Linked DNA regions of Homo sapiens: region 1 is linked to region 2. A link means that fine-mapping ties the variant in region 2 to the expression of a gene that starts in the linked region. Tissue or cell type: tibial nerve. Region 2 holds a variant in brackets; the other region holds the start of a gene. All regions are shown on one strand. Distances are between the middles of the regions.

Region 1 (5,372 bases), 34 kb before region 2:
TGCCTGGCTAGGTTTTGTATTTTTAGTAAAGATGGGGTTTTGCCATGTTGGCCAGGCTGGTCTTGAACTCCTGGCCTCAAGTGATCTGCCTGCCTTGGCCTCCCAAAGTGCTGGGACTACAGTCATGAGCCACCACACCCAGCCATCAGGCCTCTTTTTAAATGTCTCTTCAACAGGCCATTCCTGACCATCCTCCTCAACCTAAATTAGGTCTCCTATTCACACAGATCGTAGCTTATATATTTGTGTGATTATTTGATTAATACCATTCACACAATCTTATAGTCCTATGACAGAAGGACGTCTGTTTTGCTGAGCACTTTATGCCCAACACAGTACCAGATACACAGCAGGTGATCAACATTTATTGAAAGAATAAATATATTTCTATGTTACTATATAGGCTTCACAAATATAATGTAATAGCTGCATAATACCCGACAGTTATCCCTTTAATTAATGGCTTTAATAATACATTTGTTTCATATGCAGTTGAAAGAACTGACCTTTTATGGTTAGAAAAAAAAATGTTTGAAGTCCCTGGACCAGCCATACCAGAAATCTGAGCACACTAATAACAACATTATGCATGTACATGGTGAGCCTAATTTTGCTGTTGAAAGTAAAAATACAGGCCGGGCATGGTGGCTCACGCCTATAATCCCAGCACTTTGGGAGGCCGAGGCAGGCGGATCACAAGGTCTGGAGATCGAGACCATCCTAGCTAACATGGTGAAACCCCATCTCTACTAAAACTACAAAAAAGTAGCCAGGTGTGGTGGCATGCGCTTGTAGCCCCAGCTACTCGGGAGGCTGAGGCAGGAGAATTGCATGAACCCAGGAGGCAGAAGTTGCAGTGAGCCAAGATTGCGCCACTGCACTCCAGCCTGGGCAACAGAGTGAGACTCCGTCTCAAAAAAAAAAAAAAAAGAAAAAGAAAAAGAAAGTAAAAATACGTAGATTATAGGTTTTGAAATCAATTTAGTAGGTTATGAGCAGTACTGCTTTTAAAAATAGAACAGAATGGGCCGGGCACGGTGGCACACGCCTGTAATCCCAGCACTTTGGGAGGCTGAGGTGGGCCGATCACGAGGTCAAGAGATGGAGACCATCCTGGCCAACATGGTGAAATCCTGTCTCTACTAAAAATACAAAAATTAGCTGGGGTGGTGGTGCGCGCCTGTAGTCCCAGCTACTTGGGAGGCTGAGGCAGGAGAATCGCTTGAACCTGGGAGGCGGAGGTTGTGGTGCCCTGAGATCATGCCACTGCACTCCAGCCTGGTGACAGAGCAACACTCTGTCTCAACAACAACAACAACAAAACAGAATGATGTCTGAATGCCTGCCTGGCAAGTGAGAGGATAAACATTGTTTTATATAACTTTTTGTTTCTATTTTATATCGATATACCTATAGACATAGTATGTATGTGCTGAAGTATGTACCAGGTTGCAGGTTGTAGTGTAAAATATATTTCTTACTGTGGATTGTAGTTTAAAAAAATGAAAAACTCGGCCAGGCACGGTGGCTCATGCCTGTAGTCCCAGCCCTTTGGGAGGCCGAGGCGGGTGGATCACGAGGTCAGGAGATCGAAACATGGTGAAACCCTGTCTCTACTAAAAATACAAAAAAAAAAAAAAACTGGGCGTGGTGGCATGCGCCTGCAGTCGCAGCTACTGGGGAGGCTGAGGCAGTAGAATCGCTTGAATCTGGGAGGTGGGGGTTGCAGTGAGCCGAGATCACGCCACTGCCACTGCACTCTAGCCTGGGTGAGCAGAGTGAGACTCCGTCTCAAAAAAAAAATAATAAAAATAAAATAAAAATGAAAAACTCTGATTTCAGTGGCTTGCCTTTGAAGTTATTCGAACACTTCAGAATCCTCAGGTATTACCTGATAAATGACTTGTTCAGTGTTCTACAAGCTCACTTTCCTGATATTGCTGATTACTATGCATGGAGGATTTGGAAACTCCCAAGATTATTTTATTTTTTACAAACTTATTTTGTATTTATTTATTTATTTTTTTGAGACAGTCTGGCTCTTTTCACCAGGCTAGAGTGCAGTGGCATGATCTCGGCTCGCTGCAACCCCTGCCTCCTGGGTTCAAGCGATTCTCCTGCATCAAGCCTCCCGAGTAGCTGGGAGTAGCTGGGACTACAGGAGCACGCCACCACACCCGGCTATTTATGTATTTAATTAATTAATTTATTTATTTTTTGAGACGGAGTCTCGCTCTGTTGCCCAGGCTGGAGTGCAGTGGTGCGATCTCGGCTCACTACAAGATCCGCCTTCCAGGTTCACGCGATTCTTGTGCGTCAGCCTCCGGAGTAGCTGGGACTACAGGCGCCTGTCTCCACGCCCGGCTAATTTTTTTTGTGTGTGTGTATTTTTAGTAGAGACGGGGTTTCACCGTGTTAGCCAGGATGGCCTCGATCTCCAGACCTCGTGATTCGCCCGCCTCGGCCTCCCAAAGTGCTGGGATTACAGGCGTGAGCCACCGCGCCCGACCTGTCCCTTGACTTTTTTACTGTCCTGAGATGCCAGGCTTATGTGGGCGGTGTGTTCCCAGCAGAAGATGATCCCGTGGAAGTCCCGGGGGATGAAGGTTAGGTTAGTCCCAGTGCCAGCCTTTGGTAGAAACTCAGGACCTGATAGGTAGAAAGGCGACGAAGAGAGCCTGCTCTTCTTCAAGTTCTACTTTTGCCATCCTAATTCCCCTCGCTCTAAGGATAAAACCAAGCTTGATGAAGCCGCCTTAAAACTGCCCCTTCAAGTGGGAGCCCTCATCTCATTTTTATCCAGGAAAGAGCCCAGAGCATCTGCCGCGGCCTGTAGGCTCTTCTCTGCCAGGCTGGCTTCCGAAATTTCACGGTGGCGGGTACCTTAAGGCCACTCGGCCGGGCAACTGGCAGGAAGATGAAGGTGGGCTTTAAGGAGGAGCACAGCTATGCCCATCTCAGACTCTGGAGACCCGAACGAACTCTAATCTGAATGTGTGACCTTGGGCAAATCACTTACCCTCCCCAGGCCTCGGTTCCCTTATCTGCAAAGTAAAGGTAGCCCTAAAGTCCCCGCCAGGTGTGAATGGGACTTTAAGTCCATCAGGCAGGATGTTGATGGCACTGCGCCAGGGCCCCGGGTCGGCGTGGGGCGGGGGCGCGCCAACGCGGGGCCGGCACCGAGGACTGGGTGGCCCGGGAGAAAAGCGGCGACTGCGCGGCTGCGCGGGGGACGGTGCACACAGTGCTGCGCCCCCCGCCTCTTGGCTCGCTGCCGCGGCCCGGGGGCCACGAGGTTACGTAAGGAGCCGGGCGGGGGTAGCGGCTGGGGAGGGCGGGGCGGGCACCGCCCCAGCGCGGCCGCCCAGCCCCCGCCCGCCCGCGCCTGGCGGCGGTGGCGGCAGTGGCAGCAGTGGCAGCCGCGCAGCCCCGCGGAATGGAGCGGCGCCGGGGCTGAGCCGGGCGCGCACGGGCCGCCGCATGTGCCGCGCGGGGAGCGGCTGCCGAGCGGGCGGAGAGCGAGCGCGAGAGGCCCCGTCGGAGCGGCCGCCGGAGCAGCGCCGGAGATGGGGTGAGTGAGCCCGCGCCGCGCGCTCTCCGCGCGCCCCTCCGGAGGGACTGCGGGGCCGCGGCTGGCGTAACCGGGCTCGGAGCCTCCCGGCGGGCCGGCCCCCGCCTCCCCAAGCCGGAGCGAGCGCACACTCTGCGCCCGGGAGTCTGGGGCCACCTGACCCGCGCCCTCCGCCGGGGCACGCGGACACCCAGCAGGGGCACCCTGGCCTGGGCGCGGAGCCCGTGGCCCTTCCCCTCCCATACAGCCCGGGCACGGGGGCACCTGACGGGGACCGGTGCCCTGGCCGGCCTCCTGCCTCGGCCATTCCGCGGTCTCTTCGCCCCTGGGCGCAGTCAACTCCAGGGCCTGTGTGAGTCTAAGCAGTTTGTCGTTCTCCACGTTTGGATTTATTACAAGCAAAATGGAAATCGAAGTTTTCCTGGAAATAATCAAATAATAATAAACCTCCAGCGTAGGAATAGTGGACTTTGGATCTGCTTTGAGATGCTGAAGATGATGGAAGTCTATAAGGAACCTAGGTGAGGCTTCAGTCTTTGAAACAACTGAGTAGATGCTCAGGAGGGAAGTTGAAATACTCTGTCGAAGTGACTAATGCTTCTGAGTATATAAAGTAATTTAAGCTTTCCCCTCGGCGTCTCTCTGAGCAGTAGGCTCTGTGAGTCTGGGAGCCACTGTGCTAATAGCACAATAACTCCTTACATCTGCTCACTCTATTTGGGCACACGTTGACGGTTTGCCATACGTATTCAGGGGACACTTATGTCCACTTTACAGATGAGGAAACTGAGGCACAAAGTGGTTCGGTGACTTCCCCCAGGCTGTGTAGTTGATGAGCATTTGTGTAGCAGGGGTGGCCTTGCCACTGCCTGACGTGGGCATGGAGGCGGGTAAGTGAACCAGAATTCCTAAATCTCTCTGTTCCCTGCTGCTGAACCCAGCATTCTTCCAACAGCCCTTCGCAGGACTCAAATGCTTCTGCTCCAAGGGTCTAGAGATCTTGCTTTCCTGTTTGGGATGGGTGGGGCCTGGGAAGGCAAGAGTGCAGTGGAAGGAGCAAGATTGTCCTGGTGCCCTGGCTCAGCCCCCCTGGGTCAGTGGCTTTCTTGCACCGTACTCCAGGTTAAGTTTCTGGAGTCATTTTGCCTGGTGAGTCTTAGCCATGGGAGCTGCAGAGTGTGTGAGGGGATCAGAGGCAGGCCAAGAGGAATTTTGAGGAATGGAAGTGTGAGGGCTGTGGGCCAACATGAACTGGACATGACAGAGGTGGGTGACAGAGAGGAGGAGGCGAGATGAGCAGCGAGGGCTGAAGAAGTGTGCTTACATTTAGGAGATTTCACATGAACAGCAACTGTGGGTGATTTTACCCAGAGGCACCCAAGTTGGCAGGCCGTATTTCTGTAACATTTCCAGTGAGTCCTCAGTGGACTGTGAAAAGGCTGATCTTTGAGCAGTGAGAGCCTTTGAGGTTCTCAGATTTCATACTTTAAAAAAATGTACAGGGAAAAAGGAGTTGGCAAATGTAAGGTCTCAGAATGGAAGATAAAAGGGATCCGGTAATTTTAACTCTCTTTCTGGCCCTCCCTCCCCCTGGCCAACACAAAACCAATCCACCGTACTTGTGTGATCAAAAACAAGTACTGAAACTCTGTGGTTGAGATCAAATAGTTCTGTGGAAATGAAAATGTTTACTCACTCATAAAACCTTAAAGAAAATGTCAAAAAATAATTTTTGTTTGTGGAGAAGCAGGGAGGAGACGCTTGGGGATTTTGTTTAAACACAGAATATGTCTTTCATGTA
Region 2 (5,372 bases):
TAAAGTGTCCTGGCAGATCTGTGTCAGGGGCAGTGGTGCTCATACAAGGAAGGTCTTTCAGTGTTGGAGGTGGGGTGGGTGTGACAAGCTGGGATGTAAATCTGAATGTGCCAAGCCCACCTCCAACCTCCCACCAATAGGAGCCCTTGGACAAGGAGCTTAGAATAGAATATCTGTTATCTTTTAAGCATATGCAAGTTATAACTGAAAAATGAATGAGATTAACTTAATGTTCAAGATGGAGGATTCAGCACTTGTGCTTATTTATACCTTCTCTCCCCAGAACCCATTAAAATGATAATAAGGAGATTATGAAAAGTATAATCCCAGGACAGCAAAATGAATGGGAGGGAATTATCAGTAGTTGAGAGATTACAATAAATTTCTGGACCATAGAAAGCTAGTAGAGGAAAGGCAATGTCAGAAATATAGCACAGAGGAGACCAGAGCCCAGAGTCTGAGTGGAGGGGCCACAGGGAGTTGGGGTAGCTGACCAGTCTGCCCTGCACAACCCCAGAGACCCTCTGAACTGAGTCTGCAGGTCCAGCAAGGGCAGGAGTGAGAAGTGGTGCTGAAGCTGGGGCTTTAATTGGAGGTCTCAGGTGATACTAGGTGATACTCCTGCCACAGGGACACTGTGCATATCAGCGGGATGGGGGACGAGTGGACTCCACTGGCAGAGCCAAGACTGGGAGTGTGGATGTTGGCATTCTAGAATAAAGTCTTCCTTGGTCTGGCGTGCATCCAGGGTAGGCGGATGGTATTTGGAAGCATGGTATCAGCTCAGATCAGCGTGGGGAAAGGGGGAAAGTGTGACGTGCTCCAGCACCAAGGAGTCCGGAAGGGGAGGAGGAGCCAGCAGAAGCAGCTTCTCATCAGATAAGATGACAGGAGAAGAGTGGAGCAAGGCCTGCACAGTGGCACATGAGGGAAAACCTGTTTTTTTTGAGATGGAGTCTCACTCTGTCCTCCAGGCTGGAGTGCAGTGGTGCGATCTTGGCTCACTGCAACCTCCGCCTCCCGGGTTCAAGTGATTTTCGTGCCTCAGCTAGCTGGGATTACAGGTGTGTGCCACCACACCTGGTTAATTTTTTGTATTTTTTGTAGAGATGGGGTTTCCCCATGTTGGCCAGCCTGGTCTTGAACTCCTGACCTCAGGTGATCTGCCCACCTTGGCCTCCCAAAGTGCTGGGATTACAAGTGTGAGCCACCATGCCCGTCTGAAAATCATTTTTTTTAAGCCATTTAAAACAATTGTTTTAAGCTGAGTGCTGTGGTAGTCGCAGCTCCTAGGGAGGCTGAAGTAAGAGGATTGCTTGAGCCCAAGAATTTGAATCTAGCCTGGGCAACATAGTAAGACTTTGTGTCTTAAAAAAAAAAAAAAAAAAGATTGTTTTACCCCCAGAGTGGTAGGCTAAAAAATGTCTCCCATAGATATATCAGATGCTCATTTCTGAACCTACGTTACCGTATATGTTAAAGGGTCTTTGCAGATATGATAAGTTAAGGACTTTGAGATGGGGAGGTTATCCTGCATTATCCAGGGCCCAGTGTAATCACAAGTGTTCTGAAGAGAGTAGCAGAGGGAGATTTTACTACACACAGAATAGAGAAGAGGATGTGAGGATCTCTGCAGAGAGCTTTGAAGATGCTTTGCTGCAGGCTTTGAAGATGGAGGAGGAGGCCATGAGCCAAGGAACGCAGCTCTAGAAGCTGGGAAAGGTGGGGCAATGGATGCTTCCTTAGAGCTTCCAACCCTAGAGCCTCTGGAGGCAGCATGGCCCTGGCGACACCTTGGTTTCAGCCCAGTCAACTGACTGCGGATTTCTGCCCTCCAGAGCTGTGAGAAAATAAATTCCTGTCATGTAAGCCCCCAAGTTTGTGGGAATTTGGTACAGCAGCCCTAGGATACATCCAGCCAAAACCAATCAAGTATAAGGGGGAAAGTAAAGGCCATTCCTGATGTGCAAGGACTTAAAGTTGACCTCCCGCTCATCTTGAGGATCTACAACAGCAAAACAATGGCGAAGACTATGAAGGAGGTCATGATGTGGGGAAGTGGGCAAAAAGAATTGATGGCTCCTGGGAGTCTGGTGAAAAGAACTTCTGGACAGATGGCTATGAATGGGCCTCAGAAGCATTCACTCCAAATTACAGGTGGAAGTTACTGGCTCCAAGAATAATATCTTGAGGACAGAGACTGGAGCAGATTCCAGACAATGGACAGAGTGAACAAGCTGGAATATACTAGGGTTATGGGAAGACGGGCTGTGTTTCTTTCCT[C/T]GATAGAGAAGGCAATAGGAAAACATCACAAAAATTAAAAATTATCACAAGCATGTCATGTTTCAAATATGAAGTGCACGAAAGATACCGCCTGCTTTTGAACAACTGGGAGAGTGCTAGAAAGGAGAAGCTTCTCTCTGACCTTGATACTAGGAATGTTTTCCTGTGAGTAGCACTCTGCTGTTGACATTGGAACTGTACAGAAAGAACTATAATCCTGGCACATTTTTTGCCTCTGCAGGGAACAATATTTATATAGTCATAAGAATGTTCTTTTTTAAAAGGGTTACATAGTACTCTATTGTGTTAATTTATTGACTTGATTCTTCCTGGTACTGGACGTTCCAATTAATTTCTGGTTGACCTTTTTGTAAATAATGCTCAAACCTGAGGTCAGTTTGATCTGTGAAGCCTCTTTGTTGGGAGAGTTGGATAATTGGATTATTATACTAGTAATGTATGATTATGTATGAGAAGGGACTCCACATGCAACAATGATGACTGAATTCTGCAGGGAGGTGGTTGATGGCTTACCTAATGACTCTCCCTCACTGGGCTGAGCTGTTTGTGCTGGGCGTCTGGCCAACAGGCCAACCTGTCCTTGATCCTGTATGGACGAGCAACCCGTTGTGACTTCCCTGAGTAAGGCCTGAAGGCAGAGAGAGGTGTTGGGTAGAGCAGGCATGTTAACTTACATGTCTGGTATAAATGGGAGAGACCTGAGCTTGTTTTTGCCAACAGAAGAGATCCAGAAGCACAGAGGGGCTATTGGTGTAATCTAGGTCAGTGTTTCCCAATCTTTTTAGTGTCACGGACACATGGAAAATATGTTTACAGCACCTAGGCAAATGGACAAAACAGTGCCCAGCCCTGGGACTCCTGTGGCCCAGGCCCTGCTCTGCACCCTGAGGGTTGAGATCCCCTTCTCAGCAGGCTACTTCTTCCCAGGACAAGTGACATCTTTGTACAAATTAGAAAAAAACGCTTCTTTAAGACACCTTCTGGAAATCTGTGATCTGCCAGGCAGTTGATGTAATGAGTCTGCGTGTCTTTCATGATTGACACTCAGAGTTGTGCCCTGCACAGCCATTTACGGGGCCGAGTTCAACACACCTGTGGCCCATTGGAGGACACTACTAGGTAGGAGGCTGACAGCCTGGGCTGCTGAGGAGAGGACAGCGAGGGAGATGTTCCTGCTGTGTGCTGGGTGTGAGATTCCCAGGTTTCTGCCATAGTGACAGATCCAGTGGTGTGAGTCACTGAAATAGGGGTGCAGGGAGAACAGCAGCAGGGAGGTAAGGTGCAAGCATGGGGTTCAGGAGAGACACCTGGGCTGGAGGTACACATTCAGGTGTCATCACATAGACATGTCCTCAAAGCTGTGGAGGTGAGTGTGGAGGGGAAACCCCATGGAGAAGAACTAAGGGAATGAGCCCCCACCAGACCACCCAGCCTCACCTGCTGAGGTGGGGCCTGATACTCAAGTAGGACACGGAAATGAGGCCCTGGTAGGAGAGAAATCTGAGCACTGTGGTATCCTGTCCCGTGGGCACTGTCCCAACATGATCACACTGTCCTGAGAATAGCATCTGCCTGCTCTAGAGGATCCCTGGCAAAGACCTCTGGCTGTGACACCTGAACCCCAGAGCACCGTGGCCTGAGTATCTGTACCCTCAGGTGCTGGAGTTTCTGCACCCAGTACTCATCCTGAGTCACTGCCAGTGAGTGCTGTCCGGGAGGGATGGCGTCTATATATCTCTGTGTCCCTAGGGTCAAGCGTTAGATTTTTGAAGGATTCTTATGAGAGTAGACACTGGGACTTTGATGAGTGTGTAATGCGGCTCGGGCAATGCTGCCTGCTTTTAGTCCCTAGTTAGCTCTGGGCCATTTGCTGCCCAGGTGTTCTCCATGATCCTGCTCCGAGCTGCTCCTCGGAGTAGATGGTCCAGCTGAGGAGCAGGCTGACCCAGTCCTGCAGGGCTCTAGTCTCAGCAGCAGTCTCGCCCCTAAACTATAAGGATTTGGGGCCCCCACACCTGTCTTAGACCAGATGAGGTTGATTTCACTTTTGCCCTTGACATTGTGGGAAATAATAGAGATGAGTTTTGCCTTGCTGGGCACATGTGATATAATTTTAAAGCCAAATAATCTAGTTTAGCAAGTATTTTGGGCCTACTGTGTGCATAGGCCTGCAGCATATGAAAGGCTGGTGGGAGGCACACTGTTTCCAAGTGTTTACAGCAAGCTCACCATGGCTGTAGAACAATGGGTTTATTCTTCTTAACTAGTTTTCCTTCCTTGAAGACTTCCCTTAAATGCCTCAATCTCATAATATTCTAAACACGTAACTTCTCCCTCTCACATACACTGGGGTTTGCTGCTGTCCCCACGGGGGCGGATCTTCCCCGCTTGCACCTTCCTGCATGTGTCTTTGGTATCATGTGCCATGTCCTTGGGTGCGAAGGAAAGGGCTGTTCCAGCAGTTCCCCCTGGGGCCCTGGGAGAGGAGGGACAGGTGCCTGTGCTATTTCCCCAAGATAAAGGGCAGCTGTTCTGCTCTCAGCCTGCTCTAGCTGGTAACATACCTTCACTTGTGGCTGGGATCCTATCAATTCTTGAGGCCACCTTGGTGATATCCTGCAGATTAGAAAACCGTTTGGCGGTTATATGTGACTTCTTAGAGCAATGAAGAAATGAGGAAATAAATTACTTTTTCATAAATTCTGCCTAGAAGGGCAAACTCTTTCAATAATGGGATTTATAGGGAAAATGCAAATCAGAAATGGGTACTTCTTGTTCAGTGGGTTAACTGTGAGTTAGAAAAAAACAAAAATTGTAAAATGAGGGCTCTGGGCCGGGCACGGTGGCTCACACCTGTAATCCCAGCACTTTGAGAGGCCGAGGCAGGCGAATCACAAGGTCAAGAGATCGAGGCCATCCTGGCCAACATGGTGAAACCCCGTCTCTACTAAAAATACAAAAATTAGCTGGACATTGTGGCGTGCGCCTGTAATCCCAGCTACTCGGGAGGTTGAGGCAGGATAATCACTTGAACCCAGGGGGTGGAGGTTGCAGTAACCCGAGATCGC

Which allele goes with the higher level. Alleles are on the strand shown, and positions count from the first base shown. SD is a standard deviation of normalised expression in the study named.
For the expression in tibial nerve of the gene that starts at base 3,382 in region 1, T is the high allele of the variant in region 2 and C is the other (moderate effect, 0.60 SD a copy in GTEx).

What was found. PIP is the estimated chance that this variant, and not a neighbour inherited with it, causes the effect.
Region 1: HOMER2 starts here. The variant in region 2 is the best candidate, but not a certain one, in a credible set for the expression of HOMER2 in tibial nerve (GTEx, PIP 0.90).

Annotation. Positions count from the first base shown.
Region 1 is chr15:82,950,730-82,956,101 of GRCh38, reverse strand. It overlaps HOMER2 (homer scaffold protein 2), which reads left to right and starts at 3,382. Exons shown (of 9, transcript NM_004839.4): 1 at 3,382-3,571. The coding sequence starts at 3,567. RefSeq lists an enhancer at 3,632-4,132.
Region 2 is chr15:82,916,863-82,922,234 of GRCh38, reverse strand. All of the region lies in intron 1 of HOMER2 (homer scaffold protein 2), which reads left to right. LOC105370928 (a long non-coding RNA gene) reads right to left here. Exons shown (of 5, transcript XR_007064741.1): 3 at 4,869-4,920; 4 at 2,818-2,932. Among named protein-coding and RNA genes, the nearest start is that of HOMER2, 33 kb to the left of the region's middle. The variant C/T (reference allele first, on the strand shown) is at 2,284.